Linked DNA regions of Homo sapiens. The protein of the gene in region 3 interacts with the protein of the main gene of each other region in a pairwise test. Each region holds a gene or a part of one and is shown on either strand. Other genes may lie near its edges. The genes, in order: ARHGEF7, EXOC1 and SRGAP1.

The links.
Region 1: the proteins of SRGAP1 (region 3) and ARHGEF7 interact in binary tests that used the Homo sapiens proteins (3 or more experiments, as listed by UniProt).
Region 2: the proteins of SRGAP1 (region 3) and EXOC1 interact in a two-hybrid assay, tested with the Homo sapiens proteins (one large-scale study listed by IntAct).

Annotation. Positions count from the first base shown.
Region 1 is NC_000013.11:111,118,280-111,121,936, reverse strand, and holds part of ARHGEF7 (rho guanine nucleotide exchange factor 7), read right to left. Parts: intron 1-3,657. UniProt on the Homo sapiens protein: Acts as a RAC1 guanine nucleotide exchange factor (GEF) and can induce membrane ruffling. Functions in cell migration, attachment and cell spreading. Promotes targeting of RAC1 to focal adhesions. May function as a positive regulator of apoptosis.
Region 2 is NC_000004.12:55,898,539-55,902,164, reverse strand, and holds part of EXOC1 (exocyst complex component 1), read right to left. Parts: intron 2,481-3,626; coding exon 2,281-2,480; intron 1,331-2,280; exon of another isoform or gene 1,011-1,330; intron 1-1,010.
Region 3 is NC_000012.12:64,127,675-64,131,331, forward strand, and holds part of SRGAP1 (SLIT-ROBO Rho GTPase-activating protein 1), read left to right. Parts: coding exon 1-50; intron 51-186; coding exon 187-526; intron 527-2,499; exon of another isoform or gene 2,500-3,058; intron 3,059-3,657. UniProt on the Homo sapiens protein: GTPase-activating protein for RhoA and Cdc42 small GTPases. Together with CDC42 seems to be involved in the pathway mediating the repulsive signaling of Robo and Slit proteins in neuronal migration.

The DNA.
Region 1 (3,657 bases), on a different chromosome or scaffold from region 3:
TGAGGAATGACTTTGTGCCCAGCACATCTACTCATTTACCCTGGTAATGACCTCACTGCCCCCACCAGTGGATATCATTCATCTCATTTTTAGGAGGAAGAAACTAGGACTCCGAGAGGTTAGACAGGTGCCGGAAGTCACAGAGCAAATGGCTGCGGGAACAAAGCCAGGTGTGCCTGACTCTGAAGCACGCAGAGGACCGGGTCTCCCAGTGTCTCCAGGCAGGGACCCGTGGGTTCGGGGGATGCCAGTCCTCCCATCTCCCAGCGATGCACGTGGTAGAGTTGCGTGCCCAAAGGGATGATGTGCCTCTGCCACCTCCCTCGTGCAGTGAGAGACGCGTGGGCGTCAAGCCTACACAAGACTCCAATCCAAACGGCTAAAATCCACCCTACACAAGAACAAACGGCTCTGCCCCCACTCACCTCACAGCCCCCATCGCCTCCACTCTTTACATTTTAGAGTGATCAGTGGCCTCTAAAGGGAGAGAGATGTTCGTGTGTACATAGTACTTGAATTTTAAAAGTGTGTGTGGTGTAGATGCACACAGTTTGAAATCTTGGACTAAGTGGAAATCTGGTAAGCCCTACAGAGTAGGGAAGCCCAGAAACTACAGTGAGTTATTGGATGGTACAGGAACACGGAACACACGTTCTGCGGCCGGGGAGAAAGGCCCAGACACAGACTTCTGCAGGAGCTTCTGCAGGTTCCCCCAGGGCAAGGGGCCCTACCCTGGGTGCCTTTGGGGTCTGTCTACTGAAGGGCAGAGCTGCTTCCAGATGTCCCGAGAAGTGAGACACCTGCAGTGGCTCCAGGCACTCCTGAGGGCTCCCACTCTGCCCCTGTGGCCGGTGACCTGAGCCAGCCCCTCCAGTCCTCACTTTTGTCCCCCCTGGGTGCTCAGTTACACTGCTGCCTCCGTCTCCTTTCCTGATCTGGTTTGTAAATTTCTGAAGGCAGTGGTTGCGAATCTTCCCCTAAGTTCAGTATAGGTGGCAGAATCAGTCTTGTTTTCCATGAGAAAGCTCACAGTCTTGAGCTGGAATCTTCCGCCTCCGAGTGCAGCCAGATGACCTGGGGCAAAGCTAACTGCCAGACCTCAGGGTCCTCATCTGCAGTATGGGTATTGCGAGGGACAGCGCCTGCAAACGAGAGGAGCATGCTGCCTGCCATGCTGGGCAGACATCTTATTCTCTTTTAAGATGTATAGAAAGGCAGGCAGTGCCTAAAGAAAGGAGGCGAGCAGGCAGATTCTGGAGTGACTTCTATTAATAGAATGAGGGCCGGGTCCTGAGATGGCATCCTTTGGACTGGGCTTGGAGAGTTCACAGAGCAGCTGCCCCTGAGAAAATGGAATGCCACATGTGCCAGCACTCCTTCCCCCACTCCCTCAACCCCCGTCAGACGTGTCTGTGTGTGCGTGTGTGCGTGTCTATGTACACGCATGTGTCTGTGTGTGTGTGTATTTACATGCATGTGTTTACGTATGTGCATGTTTGTGCAGGCATGCATGCGTGTGTGCATAAGTTCGTGTGTGCACATGCATGTGCAAGTGTGCATGTATGCGTGTGTGTATGCTTGTGTGTGTGCTCTCCTGTGTCTGTGTGATGCCAACATAAACACTAGTTTCTAGTCTGGTTCTCAGGAAATCTCTTCAGGCACTCCTGATTTAAATTGAATTTCAGTTTGTTTGCTTTCTTTTTAGTGAGCCAGCAAATGCAGTTCCAGCTACCTTCTTCCCTAGGCCTGAAACCCAAACAAGAATCACACTGGTTCAGGGTTGAGACAGGACTATAAAGTCACATGCTTCAAAAGGAAATGTTTATTATTGCAAAATTCACTATTCTGGAACCATATTCAGGGTAGTTTAGTTAGAAGCAACTTGATATAACCAGTTATTCAGTTTGCAGGGTTTAAAGAAGTCTCCTTAAAAACACAGTCTGGAGATACCATATTATAACTTCTCTATAAGTGACTTAGCCAATCAACAAGTCTTTATGACGGCTACAGGTCACGGGCCTGAGTGAGAACCTTACCCTACCACCACATGTGATCACTCATCACGTTCTTTTTAGGGCCAAAGGACCTAAGAAAAGGCACATTTCTAGCAGGTGAGCACTTCTGCTTCTCCTCACCCCAGCCCCTAACCAACCCCAGAATCCTGACACTGAGCAGAAAGTGAGTCTCCAGTTTACCTAGAAAAAAGTATTTCCTTTTTTCCTATGCAACATCAGATTTGCTGATTTTCTGCAAGCCTGTGGAAAATCACCTAGGGCTGCCAGGTTACAGTTTGGGAAATGCAAACCATATTCTTACCCACACGTCAGCAAAGTCTTGGGTCTGACCTGCTCAAATGCTGGTCTTTTTAGCTCCTTGATTCTTTTGCTCCTTCTCATCCATATCTGACATTACGACTCTTGACTTCCTTCTGCCTCATGCTGTTCTTGTCTTTCGAGTTACATTTTCTGTACTGGAACCCCCAAGACTCTATTATTTAGGTTTTGCAATCTCCCCTAGCACCTGGCATTGTGCAATCAGATCAATAGCTAATAAACTGATCTGGTTCAAATGTAGAAACAACCTGTCATGAGCTGAACTGTGCTCCTCCAGCATTCGTATTTTGAAGTCCTAACCCCCAGTATCTCAGGATGGGGCCTTATTCAGAAATGAAGTTAATGCAGATGTAATCGGTTAAGATGAGGCCATACTGGGGTAGGGTGCCCCTAATGCAATTCCACTGATGTCCTGCTAAAAAGGAGGAATTTGGACACAGAGAAGAAACCACAGCACGGACATCATGTGAAGATTGGACTTGTGTTGCCACAAGCCAGGAACTACCAGAAGCCTGAGAGTGGCCTGGGACAGACCCCTCCTTGGAGCCTTCTGAGGGCACGAGGCCCTGCAGGTACCTTAATCCCAGACTTTGGGCCTCCAGAGCTGAGAGACAAATGCCTCCACATCCAGCACTAAGACCCGAGGCAGCGTCTGATTTTCAATTACATTCCACAAACACCTAGCCAGGGTTCTCGGGAGCACATCACATGGATTACACAGGAAGGTTCTCTGTGTTCTGTTCTCCTGGGACACACAGAGAAAGAACCAAGTTCCTTGAGTTTTTTATAGTGAGTTAAGAGACTTCATTTGTTGCATTCACAAGTGAAATTAAAAGAGCATTTCATGATTTCCATGATTTTAATGTGTTGTATTAGTCTTATAGAAATTTTCCATCCTCTACAATTCATGTATCTTGATTTCACCTCCTTTGACTAAATACCCTAGGGATGTTTAAAGTGAATTTGTGAGAAAAGGGCTTCCAGGGCTCCCTAGACGTCATGACCTCTGCTCACGGGAGGAGTGTGGGAAGCCGAAGACATGGGCAGCCCAGCCAAACATCCTGACCCCTCCTGGAGAAAACCAAAGTGCAGGATCTCCAGATACAGAGAAGGCGAAAACTTTTTAATCCCATTTTCCTCTCCCCTACAGCAGAAAACATCTGTCCAGTATAATGAAAAGTGTCTCTTTTCTGAACTGTTCATGTAAAGTTTATAATTCCATCTTCTCACTGTCTAACCTTCCACCTTAAAAGCAAAGCGGGAACCTGGGTGGAAAGTTTCCTTTAAATGAGCAGAAGAATCTGACACGCCGTGAACGTCCTCT
Region 2 (3,626 bases), on a different chromosome or scaffold from region 3:
GAGTTCCTTGTAATCTTTTGATGTGTGAATACATACAGGAGATTAAAATTTCATGTCCCACTTTACATTTAATATTGTTTTTTCCTAAATATAAATTTTAATGGCTGCATAATATTTCACACAATGACTGAACCACAATTATTATTCATTCCTCTAGTACTAGATATTTAACATCCCACTCCCCCTTCTTTTTTTGGACTTGGCAAATCTAGTGAGACTTTAGAAAATCTACTATAAATATATTTGTCATAAATTTTTTTTGTATATAAGTATTTACCCATCTTACTGATTAAATTTCCAGGACTATAATTACTCTGTTGAAGAGCATAACTTTAAGTATTTGAAAGATTCTTCAGTATATATACAAACTGCTTCCTAGGAAAGCTCAACCAATTTATATTTCTGTCAACAGTGTATGAGGTTGCTACTTCACTATACCATCATAAGCATTATGACAATTTATAACAATAGTTGCCAGAGTAAAAAAAGTTTGTCATTTTATTTTATAATTCTTTGGCTATAAATAAGGTTAACCTGCTTTTATATGTTTAGTAGTGATTCAGCCCCTTGCCCCATTTATAAATTGGGGTCTTAGTGCTTTTCTTATTGATTTTAGTAAGATTTTTTATATTAAATATACTGACTCTGTTATATTATTGTAACTATTATTCCCAGGTCTTCTTTTATATATATACTTTTATTGACTGGCATAACTGTATTTGAGCACGATACAAAGAATTAATGCTGACAAACCCCATTCCCTCTCATTACTTTTTTCTAAAATTTTCTTAGTGATTATTCATTAAATTATCATTCTTTGAGAAGTTATTCTTAGTGCTTTAAAAATTTTGTTTTTACATAAGCTCTTAATTGGTAGACAGGAAATACATTGTTTTTCAGTATATTTGCTTTAAATTTTGTCACTTGACCAACACCAGTAATTTCAACATATCATATACAGGTGGTGATAATCTCGTCTCTGTTTTCCATATCTCTTATTTATGTTTCAGGTCTTGTTGAACTGGCTAGTGCTTCAACAACAATGCTAAATAATAAAGGATCTAACAATATTTCTGCTTTAAATTGATTTCAGAGGGAATGTCTCTAACGTTGCAGTTAAGTATCATGTAAGCTTTAGGCCTGAGATAGATCTTTTATCCAGTTAAAGGAATATTTGTCTGTTCTTAAGTTTTATAAGGAATTAGTTCTGCATTTGATTAAATGTCTTTCAAGTATTTCTTTGAATTGTTGACAGCAGATACATATTCTTTTTTTTTGTTTTGTTTTGAGACTGAGTCTTGCTCTGTCGCCCAGGCTGGAGCGCAGTGGTGTGATCTCCACTCATTGCAACCACCACCTCCTAGGATCAAGTGATTCTCCTGCCTCAGCCTCCCAAGTAGCTAGGACTACAGGAGCGTGCCACCACGCCCAGTTAATTTTTTTTTACATTTTTAGTAAAGACGGGGTTTCACCTTGTTAGCTAGGATGGTCTCGATCTTCTGACCTCGTGATCCGCCTGCCTTGGCCTCCCAAAGTGCTGGGATTACAGGTGTGAGTCACCGCGCTATTTTACTCTAACTTCAAGTTAAGAGCTTATAAAAGATAACTATATTGCAGACAAAGTTAGTTTAAAAGGTTCATTTAAGCTTTCACTATCTTGTAAAGTTCCCTAAAATCATCATTTCTTAACTTTAATTAACAGACTTACTCTGGGAAATGACTCAAGTAAGGAAAAAAAAAGAAGGGAAAGAAAAGTAAAAGGCAATGTAGAAAGCAATTTTTGGTTTTTCTTTTATCTTAATAATATTTTTGAAATTTCCACCTAGACATTGTAAACTTGGTCATTTATAAAGTAAGAAATGGGAAAGAGTAACGGCAAAGCCTAATCTAGGTTCATCCCCCAGCTTTGTAATTTATAAGCTATTATGATGTCGGGCAAGTTTTTTTACTTTCAGTTTCTTCATTTGTGAAATGGGGATAATATTATCTTAGCTTACACATCATTGTTTATAAGAATTAAAAGAAATAATGCATAATAGAATACTAGTACAATTATCATTAAAATATAGTAGATAAATAATGTATAAAAATAATGTACAGAAAGAAGAAATAAAATATATAGCATCTAGCAGTGTCTGGCACACTGGCAGCTTCAATAACTGAGTCCCCTGTGCACCAACACATGAGAAAATTTAAGATAAATGTCTGCAGGTTATTCATATGCAAACTTATGTGTATAGGTTCAAAAGTAGGAAAAATACTGAATGAAAATATATTTACATTTAGTTTTTCAAGAGGTTGTCCTAAAGAGTAAATGACATAAGACTGAAGGTGATCTGTGTATTTTTGTTTGGCTTCTTTTTTTTCTGCTTCTAGACATGAGATTTTCAATCGAGAAAGAGTTGCAAAAATATGGTGAAAGTTTTCCATCATAACCACATCCCTGGGGGTCTTCTGGCTTTCATTTGCTACTTTCTCCACTAAAACCAAAACAGAAAAAATAAAATAACATCTCTGAGTATGACCATATTTAGCTATAAACATTTATACTATTAATTTTTTTTCATTTGTAAGTTTAAGAATTAAGCACATTTCTGGACTTAATACAATATATTGTAATGGGAGTCTTCAGATCTACCTAATCATAATAAAAAGTCATCCTAAAACAGTCCCATGTGTATATGGAAATTCAGTATATAATAAAAGTAGCTTTTCAGATCAATGGAGAAATGATGAATTATTCAAAATGTGTTAGGACAACCGGCTGGACCATTTTAATATATGAAATTTAAGTTCCTACTTTACATCTTGCAGTCAAATTCTAAATTGCTAAATTATTTAAAATGTAAAAAGCAAACAAATAATACAATCATAAGTACTAAAGAAAATATAACTAATAGAAAAATAATAATTTTGCAATAGTGTGACCTTGCTAAGAATGGCCCAAAATTTAGAAGACTGTTAAGGGGAAAGATAAATAAATTGGAGATAAAATTTGAAAATTCATGTAAAGTAAAGACACCATATACAAAATCAATGAAATGCAAAATAAAATAGTGAGATAATTTATAGCCTATCAGGTTGACAAAGAATAAAAAGATTGGTAATACCTAGTAAAACCCAGCATTGGTACAGCTGTAATGCAACTGCTCATAGCACTAAACTGACATAAGCTTTCTGTATCACAATTTGGGAAAAGACTTGAGATACATAAATCCTTTGACCCAGTAATTCCATTTCTAGTAATTTACCCTAAAGAAATTATTTGACAAGTATACAAAGATAGATAAACTAAAAAAATCCTAAATGTTTATTAATAGAAGATTTGGTAAATGGATAATGACATATGGATGACTATGCAATCATTAAAAATGATTATGTTTATCTATATTAACTAACTAAGAAAGATACTAAGATTATATAGAGTCCAGCAGCTTCAAAAATAGTGTGTCAGGTATGACAACACTTTTATATTAAAGAAAGCACACATACAATATGCCCATATATAGAAGAGAGGGACAGGGAATTTAAAAGTTTGGAAGAATAAAAATTTAACATTATCTCTGTACAACAAGATTAAAAATGATCTTTACTTTCTTCTTGATTTGAAAATTCTATTCGCTGAT
Region 3 (3,657 bases):
AAGGACATGAACTCCCCGACAGACCGTCATCCTGACGGCTATTTAGCCAGGTAAGTAGAGCCTGGGAATCAGGCCCCTAAGCCTCCGCTCCTCCTGGGGCCATGAGGAGCCACTGCACCTCAGCCTTGCAGTACTGCCCGGTGTGATAAGCTCTTCTGTTTTCTCCCTGTTTCTGTGAATGTCTAGGCAACGAAAAAGAGGAGAGCCACCCCCTCCAGTAAGGCGTCCTGGCAGGACCAGTGATGGCCATTGCCCGCTCCACCCTCCACATGCCCTTTCTAACTCCTCAGTTGACCTAGGGTCCCCAAGCCTTGCCAGTCACCCCCGGGGCCTGCTGCAGAACCGTGGCCTCAACAATGACAGTCCTGAGCGGAGGCGCAGGCCTGGCCATGGCAGCCTGACCAACATCAGCCGGCACGACTCCCTCAAGAAGATCGACAGCCCTCCCATTAGAAGGTCCACGTCATCAGGGCAATACACGGGCTTCAATGACCACAAGCCACTGGACCCAGAGACAATTGCTCAGGTACGATGCTTTTAATTACATATTGCATTTTAAGTACCTAAGTGTGATGTAGGAGGTGTGAAAGATTTACTTTATTTACTTTTTACTTTATTTACTTTATATTTCTGTATAGAACCAACTAAAGAAAACAGAAACAAAACCAGCTCATTCTTTAACTTAGGCCCTGAGTCTTTTTTGAACAATTTGTTACTGAAAGGGCCCAAAGGTTCATAGTGATTTAAACAGAAACATGACAAAAACGTAGGACCAGGACACTCAAACCTATCATTGTGAATAGCCAGAAAAACTTTGAAAAAGAAGAATGGGAAAGCAGTGGCCCTGCCAGATCCTAAATGCATTCTAAAGCTAGTAAAACAGACAGATGGATGAAACAGAATGGAGAGCCCAGAAACAGAAAAACCTTAAAACAGTAGTCCCTCCTTATCTGCAGGGCATATGTTTCAAGACCCCCAGTGGATGCCTGAAGCCACAGATAGTGCAAACCCCTACTGTATATGATAAAGATGGCACTTTCAACTTAGAAAAGATGAGACCTAATAAATAATGTGATCAATAATAGATAGATATTTGAAGAACAAGTCTGGATCCTATGTACCTCCTGAACACATTCAGGTCTTTGCTTCCCAACAGTGACTGCAGAGGGGCTGTGTAGTTTTCTTCTAATGACTAAAATTGACCAAGTAAAAGGGAAACAATACTAATAAATTTGCCCATCATTCTACCATTTTTCCCTCTGGTTCTGGCTCTTTTCACAGCACAGGCCATGAGAACATATGTTCGTAGGCCTAGTGGGTGGCTTACACCTGTAATCCCAACACTTTAGGAGGCTGAGGCAAGAAGATAGCTTGAGGTTAGGAGTTTGAGACAAGCCTGGTCAATATAGCAAAATCCCGTGTCTAAAAAAAAAAATTTTTTTTTAATTACCTAGGTATATTAGGATTCTCTAGAGGGACAGAATTAATGGAATATATATACATATAAAGGGGAGTTTATTAAGTATTAACTCACACAATCACAGAGTCCCACAATAGGCCATCTGCAGGCTGAGGAGCAAGGAGAGCCAGTCCAAGTTCCAAAACTGAAGAACTTGGAGTCTGATGTTCAAGGGCAGGAAGCATACAGCACGGGAGGAAGACGTAGGCTGGGAGGCTAGGCCAGTCTAACCTTTTCATGTTTTTCTGCCTGCTTTATGTTCACTGGCAGTTAATTAGATGGTGCCCATCCAGATTAAGGGTGGGTCTGCCTTCCCCAGCCCACTGACTCAAATGTTAATTTCCTCTGGCAACCCCCTCACAGACACACCCAGGAGTAACACTTTGCATCCTTCAATCCAATCAAGTTGACACTCAGTATTAACCATCACAAGTCTACCCCTTGTCAACTTGAACCCATAAACATCTCCTGAGATCGTACATAATCTTCAAATAAAAACAATAATGTCATAATTACGCCTAACATGATACAACTGTCCTTTCCTATAACCGGAAACACACCAATCCCCAACCCAAATGCTATTACATAAAGTTAACAATACTTAAATGCTGATAGGAAGTCAATATAATCTTATGTCACATGCTAAAGGAAAAAGGAAATAAAATGAAGATATTTTCCTAGTACAAGTGTATACATGCACAAACATGTTTTTAACGAAAGAAGGAAATACTCATGACAATTACAGTCCCTGTTTCCACGTGGTCATAGCTGGTATTGATGACTACCTTCTACTACCCATTCCGTATTCCCTTTGCCTTCAGCAAGCACCTCAGCAGGTCGTGGTTGTTGTTGTTGTTGTTGTTGTTGTTGTTGTTTTCCTGGCGGAGTGACCCAAACCTTCATTCCTGAAGGGTCTGGGCCATTTGTAGTCCTGCCTGGATTGGGCTATTGTAGTTTCCCATTGACCTTAATCACAGAGCGTGGTAATACTAAGAAACGCCCTAATGGATCTCCTGTATTCCATGCACACTCTTTTTTACCTGCATCGTGGAGTAGTCGACTGATTTCATCTTGATAGTCTGAGTCAGTCACCTTAGCCAACACTGTAACTCCCTTCTTAGTCTGTTGCCTTAAAGGTAGGAGGAGCCCAAAGTGTCCAGGTGGCAATCTTAACTCAATGGCATTGTTGCTGTGTCTCCTGGTGGCACATTCCTCCCTCTGGAACTGAGACCTCTAGGCCAGCAGAACATAATGTCGCGGGAACAGGAAGTAAAAATGTTGCTAGGGGGTCACTAGGGATAATGATGAATGGTGCCACTTCCACTTCCACCTCTTGATTCCTGGACCCGTGAATCCTGGCTATGGGAGAAACTGCACCATGTATTGGACACAGATTCAGAGCATACACAGCCTTCTGGGGAACTTTGCCCCAGCCCTGCAAAGTATTGTCACCTAGTTGGTGTTGCAATTGTGACATCACAAGACCAATCCACCATTCTGTCAATCCAGCTGCTTCAGGATGATAGGGAGCATGGTAAGACCCATGAATTCCATGAGCATGAGCCCACTGCCACTCTTCTTTAGCCATAAAGTAAGTGCCTTGGTCAGAGGTAATGCTGTGTGGAATACCATCATGGTGGATAAGGCATTCCATGAGTCACAGATGGTAGTCTTGGCAGAAGCATTGTGTGCAGGATAGGCAAACCCATATCCGGAGTAACTGTCTATTCCAGTGAGGACAAACCTCTGCCCTTTTCATGATGGAAGAGGTCCAGTGTAATCAACCTGCCACCAGGTAGCTGGCTGATCACCCTGAGGAATGGTGCCATATCGAGGGCTGTGTTGGCTTCTGCTGCTGGCAAATTGAGCACTAAGCAGTGGCCATAGCCAGGTCAGCCTTGGTGAGTGGAAGTCCATGTTGCTGAGCCCATGAGTAACCTCCATCCCTGCCACTATGGCCACTTTGTTCATGGGCCCATTGAGCAAGAACAGGGGTGGCTGGGGAAAGAGGCTGAATGGTGTCCACAGAATGGCTCATCCTATCCACTTGATTATCAAAATCCTCCTCTGCTGAGGTCACCCGTTGGTGAGTACTCACATGGTATACAAATATCTTCACAGTTTTTGACCACTCAGAGAGGTCCATCCACATACCTCTTCCACAAATTTGTCACCAATTTTGCAATCATACTTCTTCT